Linked DNA regions of Homo sapiens: region 2 is linked to region 1. The links come from fine-mapping of genetic effects on gene expression. Tissue or cell type: whole blood. Region 1 holds a variant in brackets; the other region holds the start of a gene. All regions are shown on one strand. Distances are between the middles of the regions.

Region 1 (8,100 bases):
TGGAGTCGATGGTGAACTGTGGCTATGTCAAAGGGATGCAGAAAAAGTTATAGAAGCATGGGACACGGTGCAACTGATTCCATCTGCAGGCTTCCTAAAGGAGGTCACATTAAAGCTGGGAGTAAAGCGCGAGTAGTTTTCTAGGTAGAGGAAGGGGAAGACAGTTCACCAGGGGAAATCCAACTCTCATAGGTATGAATTAGAAAAACAGACACAGCTGCAGACCAGGGCTCCAACTTTTTGCATGGAACATGGGCTGAAATTCAGCTCCCAATTCTCTGTTGCAGCCAGGAACCCATGTGCAGTGGACAACCTGAACAGCTGTACAAGGCCAGCACAGATTCAGGCAGAGGGGATCACAGGACAGGCATGATGAGCAAGGGCTCCGGCTGGGCGCGGTGGCTCACCTGTAATCCCAGCACTTTGGGAGGCCAAGATGGGCGGATCATGAAGTCAGGAGATCAAGACCATCCTGGCTAACACGGTGAAACCCCGTCTCTACTAAAAATACAAAAAATTATCCGGGCGTGGTGGCGGGCGCCTGTAGTCCCAGCTACTCGGGAGGCTGAGGCAGGAGAATGGCGTGAACCCGGGAAGACGGAGCTGGCAGTGAGCCGAGATTGCGCCACTGCACTCCAGCCTGGGTGACAGAGCGAGACTCTGTCTCAAAAAAAAAAAGCAATGGCTCTTGGGAAATGGGGAGGTGCATAGAGTCATGTGTAGGAGAGAGTGCAGCCAGAGGGTGGGAGGGGGGCCACATCAGGCAGGGGTAACTGAGGCCTTCCCTGAAGGCTACAGGAACTCAGAAGCAGTGCCAGGTTGGGAAAGGATAGGAAATGAGGCCACCCCAGGGGTCCAATCCAAGTGGCAAAACTGGCAGATGTTTTCATGGCACAGGGTCCTAGCAGCTGCTTACTCTGCAGGGTTCTGTGTGAAGGGGTGGCCTGTCCCTCCACACCTGTGGGTATATCTCGTCAGGTGGGACGAGAGACTGAGAAAAGAAATAGGACACAAAGTATAGAGAAAGAAAAGTGGGCCCAGGGGACCGGCGCTCAGCATACCAAGGACCCACACTGGGACCGGTCTCTTAGTTTCTTCAGTTTTTATTGATTATTACTTTCACTATCTCAGCAAGAAGAATGTGGTAGGAGAGCAGGGTGATAATAGGGAGAAGGTCAGCAAAAAAACGTGAGCAAAAGAATCTGTGTCATAATTAAGTTCAAGGGGAGGTACTATGCCTGGATGTGCACGTAGGCCAGATTTATGTTTCTCTCTGCCCAAACATCTCAGTGGAATAAAGAATAACAAGGCAGCATTGCTGCCAACATGTCTTGCCTCCCACCATAGGGCGGTTTTTCTCCTATCTCAGAATTGAACAAATGTACAATCTGGTTTTATACCGAGACATTCAGTTCCCAGGTGCAGGCAGGAGATAGTGGCCTTCCTCTATCTCAAGTGCAAGAGGCTTTCCTCTTTTACTAACCCACGTCAGCACAGACCCTTTATGGGTATCGGGCTGGGGGACGGTCAGGTCTTTCTCATCCCACGAGGCCATATTTCAGACTCTCACATGGGGAGAAACCTTGGACAATATCCGGCTTTCCAGGACAGAGGTCCCTGCAGCTTTCCACAGTGCATTGTGCCCCTGGTTTATTGAGACTAGAGAATGGCGATGACTTTTACCAAGCATACTGCCTGTAAACATTTTGTTAACAAGGCACGTCCTGCACAGCCCTAGACCTTAAACCTTGATTCCAAGGCCGGGCGTGGTGGCTCACGCCTGTAATCTCAGCACTTTGGGAGGCCGAGGCAGGCGAATCATGAGGTCAGGAGATTGAGACCATCCTGGCTAACACGGTGAAACCCCGTCTCTACTAAAAATACAAAAAATTAGCCAGGTGTGGTGGTGGGCGCCTATAGTCCCAGCTACTCGGGAGGCTGAGGCAGGAGAATGGCATGAACCCAGGAGGCGGAGCTTGCAGTGAGCCGAGATGGCGCCACTGCACTCCAGCCTGGGCGACAGAGCGAGACTCCATCTCAAAAAAAAAAAAAAAAAACACCTTCATTCCATACAACACATGTTTTTGTGAGCTCAAGGTTGGGGCAAAGGGGTTGGGGCAAAGTGGCTGGGGCAAAGTTACAGATTAACAGCATCTCAGGGCAAAGCAATTGTTCAGGGTACAGGTCAAGATGAAATTTCTTCTATCTTCCCTTTCTACATAGATACAGTAACAGTCTGATCTCTCTTTTCCCTACACTGTTCTAAGTACTACCCATTCCATTCAGCAATACAGTTAGGGACAGCCCTATGCAGTGCCGCCTATCAGGATCCTCTCTTATATGGGACACTAAGGGGTGGCACTGGCGTGGCACTGTACAGAGAGCTCAGGTGCCCCGGGGAACAGATAAGCTCTCCCAGGGGCCGGGGAGGCTTCCTGGATGGGCTGACCCTTGAGCAGGGAGGGAAGGGTCTGCGGTCACTGGCCACCACCAGCACCTTTGTTCTCCCAAGCCCTGCATCTGGACTCTCTGCAGCCACCACTGGTACGTCAAGGGCTGCAGCCCCACTGCTGGGGAGAACCCACTGCCTGGCATTGACTGGCTCCTGGATGACATTTCCTCCAGAAGGTTAAGTGCAATCTCTGCCTGCCGGGTTCAAGCAACTCTCCTGCCCCATTCTCCCGAGTAGCTGGGATTATAGGCACCCGACACCACACCTGGCTAATTTTTGTATTTTTAGTAGAGATGGGGTTTCATCATGTTGGCCAGGCTGGTCTTGAACTCCTGATATCAAGTAATCCGCCCGACTTGGCCTCCCAAAGTGCTGGGATTACAGGCATGAGCCACTGCACCTGGCCCCCAGCTAATTTTTAAATTTCTCATGAAATCAGAGGCAGCCTGTTGCCCAGGCTGGTCTTGAACTCCTGGCCTCAAGTGATCCTCCCGCCTTGGCTTCCCAAAGTGCTGGGATTACAGGCATGAGCCCCATGCCAGGCTTTGCTTCTTTCTGAAGACCAAGGCACCGCACCTGTACACCTGAATTCCAGGAACAAGAGTGGCTATTCACAATGCTTCCTCTGCAGTAAATACTATGTGTTGTATGTAAGCCTACCAACTTCATGCTGCATTTCAACAGATTTTTGCTTCAATTCTAACACTGACTGGAGCAAAGGTCTCAAAACCCATGCCAGGTTTGGGAACACCAGTCTCCACGTGGCCCACACTGACAGTACCAATACCACCAATTTTGTGGACGTCTGGAGGGGCAGAACCAAGAGCTTGTGAGTTGGTGGTAGGATGTGATCTAGAGCTTCCGAGCAGCGTGGTTCCACAGCATCGCCATCTTTACAGGTGACTTTCCATCCCTTGAGCCAAGGCATGTGAGCTCTTGGCTCCCGCCTGTTGTGACCACTCCAACCAGATATTGGCACAAATACTACTATGTCAGAGTTGTAGCCAATTTCTTAATGTAGGTGCTGATTTCCTTAATGATTTCTCCCATCTCTCCTTTTTTTTTTTTTTTTTTTTTTGAGACGGAGTCTCACTCTGTCCTCTGTCTCCCAGGCTGGAGTGCAGTGGCACGATCTCAGCTCACTGCAACCTCTGCCTCCTGGTTTCAGGCAATTCTCTGCCTCAGCCTCCCAAGTAGCTGGGATTACAGGCACCCGCCACCATGCCCAGCTAATTTTTGTATTTTTAGTAGAGACGGGGTTTCACCATCTTGGTCAGGCTGGTCTTGAACTCCTGACTTCCTAATCCACCCACCTCTGCCTCCCAAACTGCTGGGATTACAGGCGTGAGCCACCACGCCCGGCCCCCATCTCTCCTCTTTAGGGTGGCTCATTGGGATCCATTTTGTTAACACCAACAATTAGTTTCACACCCAGCGTGTAAGACAGAAGGGTGTGCTCACGCGTCTGCCCATTCTTGGAATTACCAGCTTCAAATTCATCAACACCAGCAGCAACAATCAGGACAGCACAATTAGCCTGAGGTCAGGTTTTTGATAAAGTCTCTGCATCCTGGGCCATTGAGGATGGTCACATAGTACTTGCTGGTCTCAATTGCCAGCAGGGAGGTATCAGTGGTGATACCACTCTCACGTTCAACTTTCAGCTTACCCAAGACCCAGGTATGCTTGAAGGAGCCCTTTCCCATCTCAGCAGCTTCCTCAAAATTGTCGATGGTTCTTTTGTGGATCCCACCACACTTGTAGATCAGATGGCCAGTAGTGCTGGACTTGCCCAAATCAGATGATGATGTTGAGCTGAGTCTTTTCCCTCCCCTGCTCCCTTTCTTTTGAGATGGAGTCTCACTCTGTTGCCCAGGCTGGAGTGCAGTGGTGTGATTGCAGCTCACTGCAGCCTCAACCTCCTGGGCTGAAGCCATCAGCCAGCTCAGCCCCTGGAGTAGCTGGAATTACAGGCGTGCGCCACCACGCCCAGCTAATTTTTGTATTTTTAGTAGAAACGGGGTTTCACCATGTTGGCCAGGCTGGTCTTGAACTCCTGACCTCAAGTGATCCACCTGCCTCCACTGCCCAAAATGCTGGGATTACAGGCGTGAACCACCGCGCCAAACCCCCATTTTGGCTTTGATTTAACGGTGGTTTTCACGACACCTGTGTTCTGGCAGCAAACCCATCGCAAAAAAGCTCCACTGCCCTACACAGATTCTATTATAAACATCTCCATTCTACAGATGAGAAACTGAGGCTGAGTAGTTAAGGGAAACTCCTACAGCTAGTAAGAGTCGTGACTCAGAGCCCATGACACCATCCTGCTTCTCCAACCTTCTTTGCTTCCTCTACTTTCCAGAAAACATGAATTAGGGAATCCTGTGGAGGGAGACAGGGAAATAATTTGACGTTGTCCTGTACATACTGGACACAATAAGAGTTGGGTGGATGAACGAAAGCAGGGATTTAGGAAGCGGGGAGAAGTCGTTTGGAAGTCTGTGACAAGGGTTTACGCTTGGATAGGGTGGGCTTGATCACCCGGCAGAAATGAGACGAGTGATCCCAG[C/T]CTTCCCAACCAATCTTTCCAGTGACCTGGGTTTACGCTTCACCACAGAGAAGGAACTTTTCAGACGCTCCCTTGGCCGCGCACCCGGGATCGGAACAGCGCTGTCACTTGCGACAAAATCCCTAGGCCAGAGGAAGAAGAGCGCAGGCCTGGCGAGGCGGCGGCGGGCGGAGGCTGGGCCGGAGGGGTGGGGACGGCGAGGAGGTGGAGGCCGGCGCTCCGCTCCGCTCCAGCTCGGTTTCATGTCCCGCCAGGCGAAGGATGACTTCCTGCGGCACTACACAGTGTCGGACCCCAGGACTCACCCCAAGGGCTACACCGAGTACAAAGTAACCGCGCAGGTGAGGTGGGGCCCAGCGCGTACTTTACCCTTTTAACTAGAGGGGCGCCGAGTTTTACCTTAAGGAAAGGCGGTGCAGCCACTGCTCCCTTTTTAGACGACAGAAATGGGTTTCCCCTTTAAGGGGAGGTTGCAGTACGAGGCTTAGTTTACATCTTTAACCACCAGGGGGCGGGGTCCTGGGTGGGCGCTGTCTTTTTTAAAAGGGCGTTGACGGCCGTTCCCGGACAGGCAAGGCGTGTATGCCCACGCCCGGAGTGTAGTGTCTGGGCATCAGGCTGTGAATTTCTCTAAATTAACATGAAAACTCTGGTTTAATCCAAATATTAGTACTCCATTCTCGTAGAGTAAGTTTTGTTTATTGGTTTGTTTGATGTTACATAAACTCCCTTTAACGAGTTTAACCATTTTTAATTTTTCAAAAAATAATACTGATCAGTGGTTGAAAAAAATTGATGCAGTTCAGAAGGACTTAAGGAGTAAGTCGCCATATCAAGGTCACAGCAGGAAGATAGATAGGCTAGAGTTGATATATGAAGCGATAACAACATCATAAGCACAATTTATAGAGAGACATGGAGGAAACCATGACAATAATTAAAAATGAAACAGTAAAACAGGACACCTGTAGAATGATAACAAGAACTGGTAACAAGGAAGGTCCCCAGGGAGAGGAACTGTGTCACTGGGGACAGGAGTTAGGGGAAGACTTTTTACTGTAAATTTTTTGTACTTTTAGAATTTTCAACCAGGCGACTATTAAGCTGGTGCATTAGTTAACTCTAAAAGCAAAGCAGGCACATAAGGACACTTCCAAAGTGATCTAAGTGCAGAATCTTAGCTATTTAAAATATGCTTTCCCCAAACCGTTTACGTCTTTTCCATGCCTAAAAATAATGCAAATAAGGCCGGGCTCAGTGGCTCATGCCTGTAAATCCCAGCACTTTGGGAGGCTGAGGCAGCAGATTGCTTGAGCTCAGGAGCTCAAGACGAGCCTGGGCAACATAGTGAGACCCCGGATCAATATTAAAATACAGACACACACACAACTTTAAAAAAAAAAAAAAAAAAAGCAAATAAATAGATTGTCCCTGGGAAGATAGACTGGAGGTGGGGCTGGGGTGGGGAGGATGTGGCAAGGAACTGTAACCTTTTATTATAAGTCTTCCCAGTGGTGGCCGGGCGCGGTGGCTCACGCCTGTAATCCCAGCACTTTGGGAGGCCGAGGCGGGCGGATCACGAGGTCAGGAGATCGAGACCATCCTGGCTACCATGGTGAAACCCCATCTCTACTAAAAATACAAAAACTTACGGGCGTGGCAGCGTGCACCTGTAGTCCCAGGTACTCGGGAGGCTGAGGTAGAAGAATGGAGTGAACCCGGGAGGTGGAGCTTGCAGTGAGCCGAGATTGTGCCACTGCACTCCAGCCTGGGAGACAGAGCGAGACTCCGTCTCAAAAATATAAATAAATAAATAAATAAATAAATAAATAAAAATAAGTCTTCCCAGTGGCTTTTTTGTGTCGTTGTTTTGTTTTGTTTTTGAGACAGAGTCTCACTGTCGCCCAGACTGGAGTGAAGTGACTCGATCTCAGCTCACTGCAAACTTCCGTCGCCCGGGTTCAGATTCTCCCACCTCAACCTCCCAGGTAGCTGGGACTACAGGCACGCGTCACCATGCCCAGCTAATATTCGTATTTTTTGGCAGAGATGGGGTTTCACCATGTTGGCCAGAATGGTCTCGATCTCTTGACCTCATGATCCACCCGCCTTGGCCTCCCAAAGTGCTGGGATTACAGGTGTGAGCCACCACACCCGGCCTCCCATTGGCTTTTTAAACCAAGCAACATGCATTACTTTGATATATTTTTATACATATTATATAATACAATGTATTATATATAATAAATATAAAATATAAAGCACATAATATATAAATATATGTATGTATATATTTTTTGAGACGGAGTCTTGCTCTGTCGCCCAGGCTGGAGTACAGTGGTGTGATCTCAGCTCACTGTAGCCTCCACCTCCTGGGTTCATGCAGTTCTCCTGCTTCAGCCTCCTGAGTAGCTGGGATTATAGGCGTGTGCCACCACACCCGGCTACTTTTTGTGTTTTTAGTAGAGACGGGATTTCACTGTGTTGGCCAGGCTGGTCTCGAACTCCTGACCTCAAGTTATCCTCCCACCTCGGCCTTCCCAAGTGCTGGAATTACAGGTGTGAACCACCGCGCCTGGCCTATATTTTTATTTTATTTTATTTTATTTGCGACGGGGTCTTGCTCTGTCACCCACGCTGGTGTGCAGTGGCATGATTCACGTCTTACTGCAGCCTCAAGTTCCTGCATTCAATCCATCCTCTTGCCTCAGCCTCCTGAGTAGCTGGGACTACAAGCATGTACCACTACGCCTAGCTCAATTTTTAAATTTTTTGTAGAGGCTGGGCGTGGTGGCGCACGCCTGTAATCCCAGCACTTTGGGAGGCCAAGGCGGGTGGATCATGAGGTCAAGAGATCGAGACCATTCTGGCCAACATGGTGAAACCCCGTCTCTACTAAAAGTACAAAACGTAGCTGGGCATGGTGGCGCTCACCTGTAGTCCCAGCTACTCGGGAGGCTGAGGCAGGAGAATTGCTTGAACCCGGGAGGCAGAGGTTGCAGTGAGCCGAGATCACACCACTGCACTCCAGCCTGGTGACAGAGTGAGACTCCATCTCAAAAAAAAATTTTTTTTT
Region 2 (8,100 bases), 180 kb before region 1:
GGGCCCTCTCCTGTGTCCCTAGGATGTTCCCCTCCAGCCCCGCCACGTATCCTCACCAGGTACTCCTCGTCTTGGAAGGCATAGTGCAGAGTGGTCACCCAACGGCTGTCCCCTTTCACGAGCACATCCCGCTCCTCCCGGAAACAGGCTGTCTGCAGCAGGTTTGGGGAAGTAAGGGGTGGGGTGGGATCAGAGCCCAGGATGCCCCCCTTGCCAGCTCAGGGGATGGAGAAAGATTCTGTGAGTCTGGGAGCTCAGATGGAGGTCATAGCTCTACTGTCCCCTGTCTGGCTGCGACTGAGCCCAAGCCCACGCTCTACAGCTCTGGGCCTCAGTGTGACCATATGGAAAATGGGAACGACTCTGCTTGCTTTCAAAAGGGTTTATTAGGCCTGTAATCCCAGCACTTTGGGAGGCCAAGGCAGGCAGATCACTTGAGATCAAGAGTTGGAGACCAGCCTGGCCAATGTGGTGAAACTCCATCTCTACTAAAAATACAAGAAACTTAGCTGGGTGTCGTGGCACACGCCTGTAATCCCAGCTACTTGGGAGGCTGAGGCATGAGAATCCCTTGCACCCAGGAGGTGGAGGTTGCAGTGAGCCGAGATCACGCCACCGCACTCCAGCCTGGGTGACAGAGTGAGACTCTATCTTAAAAAAAAAAGTTTATTGTAGGCTGGGCACGGTGGTTCACGCCTGTAATCCCAGCACTTCGGGAGGCCAAGGCAGAAGGATCATCTGAGGTCAGGAGTTCGAGACCAGCCTGTCCAACATAGCAAAACCTCATCTCTACTAAAAATACAAAAATTAGCTGGGTGTGGTGGCAGGTGCCTGTAATCCCAGCTACTCGGGAGGCTGAGGCAGGAGAATTACTTGAACTGGGAGGCGGAGGTTGCAGTGAGCCAAGATAGCACCGTTGAACTCCAGCCTAGTTGACAGAGCAAGATTCCGTCTCAAAAAAAAAAAAAAAATTTAAAAAATTAAATAAAGGGTTTATTGTGAGAAAGATAACAAATCAGTGGCTGCTGAGGGTGGCACCCTTTGCCTGGTCTGCAGCCTTGCCCGCCCCCCCCGCGCCATAGGCCCTGGCAGCATACACCTCCCCCACACCCATTTGTAGGGTGCCCAAGGGCCCCCCAGACTCCACACTGACCTCAGCCCTCTTCAGCATCTCCCACTTGTGCAGCATTTTCATGGCAAAAATCTGCCCAGTGTCCCTCTGCCTCACCACGGTGACCTAAGGCCACAGGGAGGACCGGGGTGAGCCCAGCCCGGTGTGAACACCTCCCCCCACCTACCCCAGGCCCTTTGCTCACCTCCCCAAAGGCTCCTCGGCCGATCACCTTCAAGATCTCAAAGTCATCTCTCTGCAGACGCAGTTCTTTCACCTTTGATACGAAGGGGCTGGCTGAGGGGACACAGGGCGGGACTCAGAGTGCAGGGAGGGAGGGCTCCATTCCCCCTCTCACCTTGGGCAAGCCAGGAGCTGCCGCTCCTGTGAGCCCAGGCAGGGATGACCTCCCCAGGGACAGCCTCGGGCCAAGGGGTTGTGGCAGGAACTGGTGCTCCTTTGGCCATGATCAGGAAGTGCGGAAGGTCAGAGGCCGGGCTCAGCTGACCGCCTGGTCCCTGGACCTCCCTGGACCCCTGGCCCCAGACTCTAGGCAGCCTCCATCCCAGGGGCTGATGGGACTTGTAGTCCTGCCCAGTCTGCGGCCTGACTCTGCTTGGCCAGGTCACCCTGGGGACCATGGGGACACCATTCCTACCCCCACCTCACAGTTCTTGGCCCCCTCACAGGTTCAGGCCAGGGCCTGTCTTAGGAAACTGGACGGGTGACATTCCTTATCCCCAGAGAGGCTTCTCTCCCATTCAGGAGCTGTGGGCCTGGGTCCCGGGACCCTGTAGGCATAGAGGTGCCTGGTTGGGGGTGAGGCCTGCAGCCCCTAGGGCAGGGAGGACAGGCTCTATGCTTCCCACGTGGGGCCCCTCAGGCTGGAGGCATGGATGCCAGTCTGCCAAGGTGCTGAGACTCACAAACAGGACAAAGATGCCTTTCCCTGGTGCTAGCACTAGCCCCTGAAGGCGTGAGTGCTCAGGATGCCTCCAGGCCTGACCGGCTCTCTCACTCCCAGCCCTGCCTCCCTGTCTGGACGAAGCTTTTGTCTGGTCAAGAACGTCCTCTTTCCTCACATCCCAGATACCTCCAGGAAGGGCAACTCCAGCCACTCCCAGGCACTTTCCAGGCCTGGATTAGCCCCAGGTTTTGGGAAGGAATTGGGTCTTAGGGAGGCAGGAGTGATCAGTCAGGATGGGGGGCAGCTGTGGTCTGGCGCCCTGCCTCAGTTTCCCCCTGCCAGGAGGTAAACTCCCTGCCAGCTGGGCGGGTCTGTGGGTGGGACAGAGAGCTGTTCCACAGGTTTATCAGGCAGAAGCCCGCAGCGGGGGCGGGGTGGAAACCTCATTACAGAAATTCATTGTCTCTTTCCCAGGTCTGTGTGTGGAGCTGGGGAGGAGCAGCCCCGGGCCTCCCCGTGGGAGTTGAAGCCAGCACCATAGGGACCCACCCGCCAGAAGAGGGCCGAAGCCCAGGCCCACAGGCAGGAGGATCCAGGCCCCTGGACAGGCTGCCTAATCCTCTGGCCTCCCACAGGGCATGGGGGCTCCGGGCAGGAGCAGGGACAAGTAGAGACAAGCAGGAGAGGAATGAGTCACAGCCCTTTGAGTTACCTTGGGAGATTGTCAACAGAGGGCCCCCATGCCGGGGTCCCAGGCAGAGGTGCTGGAGGCAGTCAGGGAGGAGCACACATGTGTGTGCAAACACACACACGTGTGTGGGTGTCATGGGGGGGGTGACAACAACACAGGCAGACAGGCATAGCACGGAGGCATACCAGGGAGACAGGCACAGAGGCAGGGGCCTCTGACTGCCTCGCCCTGGATGGAAGGGTTGGGGCTAGGGGACAACTCCCTGGCACATCTAGGTGGCAGCCTCCCCCTCTACCCCAGGCCTTGTGCCTTCCCAGAGCTCAGGAGTGCCAGGAACGCTAGTTGCCCACTGGGCAAACACCTGCCTCACCCCGCCCTGGCCAGGCCCCCGTGCCTTTTCCCCATGGCCCGGCAGGGTGTGACCAGGGAACCCTCCAGCTGGCGCCAGTGCCCACAGTGGGTTCAGGGTCACCCCGGGCCAGCCACTCCCAATGACTCAGATGAGTCTACCAGGAAAGGTACAGACCCATCTCCAGCTAGGCCCCCCTCCCCGGCCCCGGCGCCACAGCCCCCAAGGAGCTTGGCCAGCAGCCTGCACAGGCCAAGGGTTGGAGATCGGTTCCTGAGTCCAGGCTGCAGTGGTCTTGTACCCAGGGAGCTGGGGGTGTGTGTGTTGGTGGGGGGAAGGTCTGCAAGTGTGCGATACCTACAGATCTGTGTGTTTTGCAGTGCCAATGCGGTCGGGGTGGTCTGCAGCGCTCCCTGGGTCTCTCCATGAGTTGTGTGTCTCAATGCATCCGAGAGGAAGGAGAAACAGAGCCCGTGTATCAGTGGGTGACATGCATGAGGGTCTGTGTGTGTCCTGCGTCAGGTGTGGCCTGTAAGCAAGGAAATCTGTAAGGGACTCTAGGCGGTGCACTGGGTACATGCGTCTGCGGTCGATACCTGAGCACAAGTTGGTATGTGTGTGCATGTGTCGGGGTCTGTGAGAGGGAGAGAGCGTGTGTGAGAATTGGAGTGAGGGTGAGGTGTGCAGGCGAGTGTGCGGGCCGCGGGGGTCCGGTGGTACGCGTCAGGGCCACTGCAGGGAGTCTGCGAGGGAAGCCCGTGGGGGTGCGGGTCCCTGCGGGAAAGTCTGCGGGTGCGGGGGTCTCGGCGCGATATCCCTAGGCCCGCCCCCGCTCCGTGCCGCCCCGCCACTCACCCCAGCTCAGGAACTGCGCCACGCTGCGCTCCCGCCGTAGGGGGCCGCTGCTGAGCTCGTGGTGCAGCGCCAGCAGCAGATCTAGGAGGCCGTCGAGCCCCGGGCAGCCGCCGGCCTCGCCCCGCGCCAGCTGCTCCAGCGCGCGCAGCCGCCGCTCCATGGCTGCGGCCGGAGCCTCGCTGCTCGGCTACAGTCTGGCCGCCCGCATGCCCGCCTGTCGGGCCGTCCGTCCGCCCAACCGTCTGAGGCTCTGTCCGCGCGTCCTCCCCCGCCCCTCTCCCGCCCTCCCCGCTGTCACCTTCCTCCGCCGCCGCCAGCGCGCCCTCACCTGGGCGCCGCGCCCCGCCCCCCGACGGACGGGCAGGTGCGCGCCGGCCAATGGGAGCCGCGGCTAGAGGTGAAGGTGGGGGCGGAGGCGCGCGGGGGCGGGCCCAACTCCCGGCCAGGAAGTGCGGGGGCGGGCCGGGGAGAACAACTGACTTCTGCGCGGGGCGCGGTGGGGTTCTGCGGGGTCGGAAAGACTCCCCAGATCCCCGCGCGGCCCCAGACCCAGACTTACCTGGGCCCTCCCTGGGCCCTGACCCAGGAGGCGCGGAGCACTGCAACTTCTCTCGCCCCCTGGGTCGCAGCCGCCTTGCCCTTGGCTAAGAGAGAGGGGCTAGGGACGCCCGCGGCCCCGGAGCCGGATGGGAATTGTAGTTCGCTCTCTCCATGGTTTGCCCGCGCTTGGCACCCATCGCCCCCCCGCCCCCGCCCAAAAAAAAGTTTCTGAATCTTACTTTGATTGTATCATTAGAGTTGATGTGGGAGACAGGAAGTTGGGGTAGGGATGGTCACGCCCATTTGGCAGATGGACACACTGAGGCTTGGGAAGGAGGAAGGCGAATTGAGGGGCTGAGGACAAGGTGGCTCTTAAGTTAGACCCTGGGGTGGAGGTGGAGCTGGGCTGGTACCAACACCACAGGCGTTTTAAGCTTCAGTAGGAGCAGGGCCTGAGGTCTGACCTGGAACGTGAAGGGCAAGGAGAGGTCTGAGATAGGCTGGAGGAGGTTGGGGAGGGGAGGGGCTGGCTCTGTCCAGTGGTATTTCTGATTTCTGTCCAGCTGGGATGGACCAGGCACCATGAGGAGAGATCAAAGGGTGGGACATATTGGTGGCTTCAGACAACACTTTTTTTTTTTTTTTTTTGAGACAGGGTCTCTCTGTCACCCATGCTGGAGTGCAGTGATGCAATCATAACTCACTGCAGCCTTGACCTCTTAGGCTCCTGCCTCAGCCTCTTGAGTAGCTGGGATTACAGGCAGATGCCACCACACCCAGCTGATTTTTTATTTTACTTTTTGGAGTCAAGGGTTATTGTTATGTTGACCAGGCTGGTCTCGAACTCCTGGGCTCAGGTAATCCTCCCACCTTGGCCTCCCGGAGTTCTGGGATTACAGACATGGGCAACTACACCCGGCCTAGACAACACTTCTTTCTCTTTTTTGAGACAGGGTCTCACTCTGTCCCCTAGGCTGGAGTGCAGTGGTGCAATCGTAGCTCACCACAGCCTCAACCTCCTGGGTTCAAGTGATCCTCCCACCTCAGCCTCCCGAATAGCTGAGACTACAGGCTCACACCACTAGGCCAGGCTGATGTTTTGTTTTTTGAGATGGTGTCTCACGCTGTCACCCAGGCCAGAGTGCAGTGGCACGATCTCGGCTCACTGCAACCTCTGCCTCCCAGGTTCAAGAGAGTCTCCTGCCTCAGCCTCCCAAGTAGCTGGGATTATAGGCATGTGCCACCACACCCAGCTAATTTTTGTATTTTTAGTAGAGATAGGGTTTTGCCATGTTGGCCAGGCTGATCTCAAACTCCTGACTTCAGGTGATCCTTCTGCCTCGGCCTCCCAAAGTGCTGGGATTACATGCGTGAGTCACTGGGCCCAGCCATGTTTGTATTTTTTATAGAGATGGGGTTTCGCCATGTTGCCTAGGCTGATCTCAAACTCCTGGACTCAAGTGATCTGCCTGCCTCAGCCTCCCAAAGCGCTGGGATTACAGGCTGTAGCCACTGGCCAACACATTATTTCATTAAAAGACCTGTTTAGGGGTTTGCCTCTCCTCTCGTACTGGGACCTCGCTGAGATGGGGGCAGGATCAGGTTGAGGGAGGAGGTGTTCCATGAATGTTTGAAGCAAACAGGGTGTTTCTCCCCACGAAGGGTTTTTCATGTGATTATTTGTTTATTTATTTATTTATTTTAAAGAGACAGGGTTGCACTATATTGCCACGTTGGCCAAGCTGGTCTGACCTCAGGTGATCCGCCCACCTCGGCCTCCCAAAGTGCTGGGATTACAGGCATGAGCCACCATACCCAGCCTTTTTTTGAGACAGGGTCTTGCTCTGTCACCCAGGCTGGAGTGCAGTGATGCAATCTCAGCTCACTGCAGCCTCAACATACTGGGCTCAAGTGATCCTCCCACCTCAGCCTCCTGAGTAGCTGGGACCGCAAGCCTGCACCACCACGCCTGGTTAATTTTTAATTTTTTTTTTAGAGCTGGGGTCTCTCTACATTGCCCGGGGCTGGTCTCAGACTCGCCCTGCCTCCCATGTGATCTCCCCAGAGGCCCGCCCTGTAGCTACGCAGGGCCCATGGGCTGAGAAATGTTTGGGGAAACAGAGTCTGGGTGTATTACCTAAATCAACCAGAATGGGATGGGGAGCCAGGATTCAAACCAAACTCTGGGGATCCCCTTCATTGCCTCTGGTCTCCTGGAAGGGGGAGGGGGCAGGAGTTCAGATCCCTCTCACCTGAGAGATTCTGAGCCCTCCTTATAGGGGCGGGGCAGGGGTGGAGCCCACAGGAGGTAGGAAGGGGCTTGCTCACTGAGGCCACACGGGGGCGCCAGAGACCAGAGGAGGGACAGGCGCTCCAGCCAGCATTAGGGAACCGGAGATAGGGAAGGGCTCCTGGGTGGGAAGATGGGCCTCTCCTCCGCTGCCCCTCGTGGACACCCCTGGTGAGGCCTCTGGGCCCTGCCTCACTCCCTGTGTGACCTCAGGCAAGTCCCTTAACCTCTCTGGTAAGTTCTCAGAAAGGTTCATCCCCAGCCATCTGTCCATCCCCACACAGTATAGCTGAGTGGACACTGAGTCCCAGGGCTGAGGCCAGGGCTGCACGGGGCAGGGCTGGGACTGGCATTCGGCACCTCCCGCCTCTCACACGTGATTCTTTCTGGTCCTTTATTAGTTTTTGTCACATCTGTCTTGTAAGCCTCAATTTCCTTGTCTGTAAAAGGGGGTTGGGTCCGGGCATGGTGGCTCATGCCTGTAAGCCCAGCATTTTGGGAGGCCGAGGTGGGAGGATCACTTGAGCCCAGAAGTTCAAGATCAGCCTGGGTGACATAGTGAGACCTCATCTCTACAAACGAACTTAAAAATTAGCTGAGTGTGGTGGTGAGAGCCTGTAGTTCCAGCTACTCGGGAGGCCAAGGTGGGCGGATCACTTGAGCCCAGGAATTCAAGACCAGCCTGGTCAACATGGCAAAACCCTGTCTCTACTAAAAATACAAAAATTAGCCTGGAATGGTGACACACACCTGCAGTCCCAGCTACTCGGGAGGCTGAGAAAGGAGAATCACTTGAACCTGGGAGGCAGAGCTTGCAGTGAGCTGAGATTGTGCCACTGCACTCCAGCCTAGGTGACAGAATGAGACCATGTCTCCAAAATAAATAAATAAATAAAAATAAAGGGGGAGGGTTGGGCCCCCTGCTCATTCCTTTGCAGCTCCAATGGAAGGAAGTCTGTAAAGGCTCAGTCTCTTTCTGAGCTTATTCCAGCCTTAGCAAGCAGCCAGGCCTCCAGCCCTGACTGCCCGAAGCAGCTCCAGGGCATGGCACCATGTTGGCTCAGCAGATCTGTTTTCTGATCCTGTGGGGCCAGACCACTAGGGCCACAGCAGCCTTGACACGCTCCCCACAGAGCCCTGAGCATGGCACAGCCCAAGGCCCAGCTCACAGGGATGGGTGAGTCTTGACAGGAGACACCCCCGAGAGCCTCAGTCACACCCTGTCCAGGCAGTCAGGCCACCCTCTTTCCTTTCCTTCTCACCAGGGTACCTTCATTCAAATGCCTCCTCCATGGTCGACTACTCCCCAGGTGCAGGAGGGCTCAGCTACCCCCCGCAGCCTCTCACTCATCCCGCA

The links. PIP is the estimated chance that this variant, and not a neighbour inherited with it, causes the effect.
Region 2: it holds the start of CDC42BPG, and the variant in region 1 is fine-mapped to the expression of CDC42BPG in whole blood (TOPMed, PIP above 0.99). The same link has a PIP of 0.9 or more in cerebellar hemisphere, sun-exposed skin, thyroid and unexposed skin.

The regions. Positions count from the first base shown.
Region 1 is chr11:65,022,272-65,030,371 of GRCh38, forward strand. SNX15 (sorting nexin 15) reads left to right here and starts at 5,168. Exons shown (of 8, transcript NM_013306.5): 1 at 5,168-5,365. The coding sequence starts at 5,267. It overlaps ARL2-SNX15 (ARL2-SNX15 readthrough (NMD candidate)), which reads left to right. Exons shown (of 11, transcript NR_037650.2): 4 at 5,047-5,365. It also overlaps the pseudogene EEF1A1P18. RefSeq lists an enhancer at 4,986-5,280 and a silencer at 5,130-5,299. The variant C/T (reference allele first, on the strand shown) is at 5,025.
Region 2 is chr11:64,840,497-64,848,596 of GRCh38, forward strand. CDC42BPG (CDC42 binding protein kinase gamma) reads right to left here and starts at 4,157. Exons shown (of 37, transcript NM_017525.3): 1 at 3,914-4,157; 2 at 1,317-1,408; 3 at 1,154-1,237; 4 at 57-152. The coding sequence starts at 4,073. RefSeq lists enhancers at 1,195-2,007, 2,501-2,795, 2,820-3,632, 7,043-7,112 and silencers at 3,847-3,896, 3,927-3,976, 3,987-4,336, 6,653-6,742.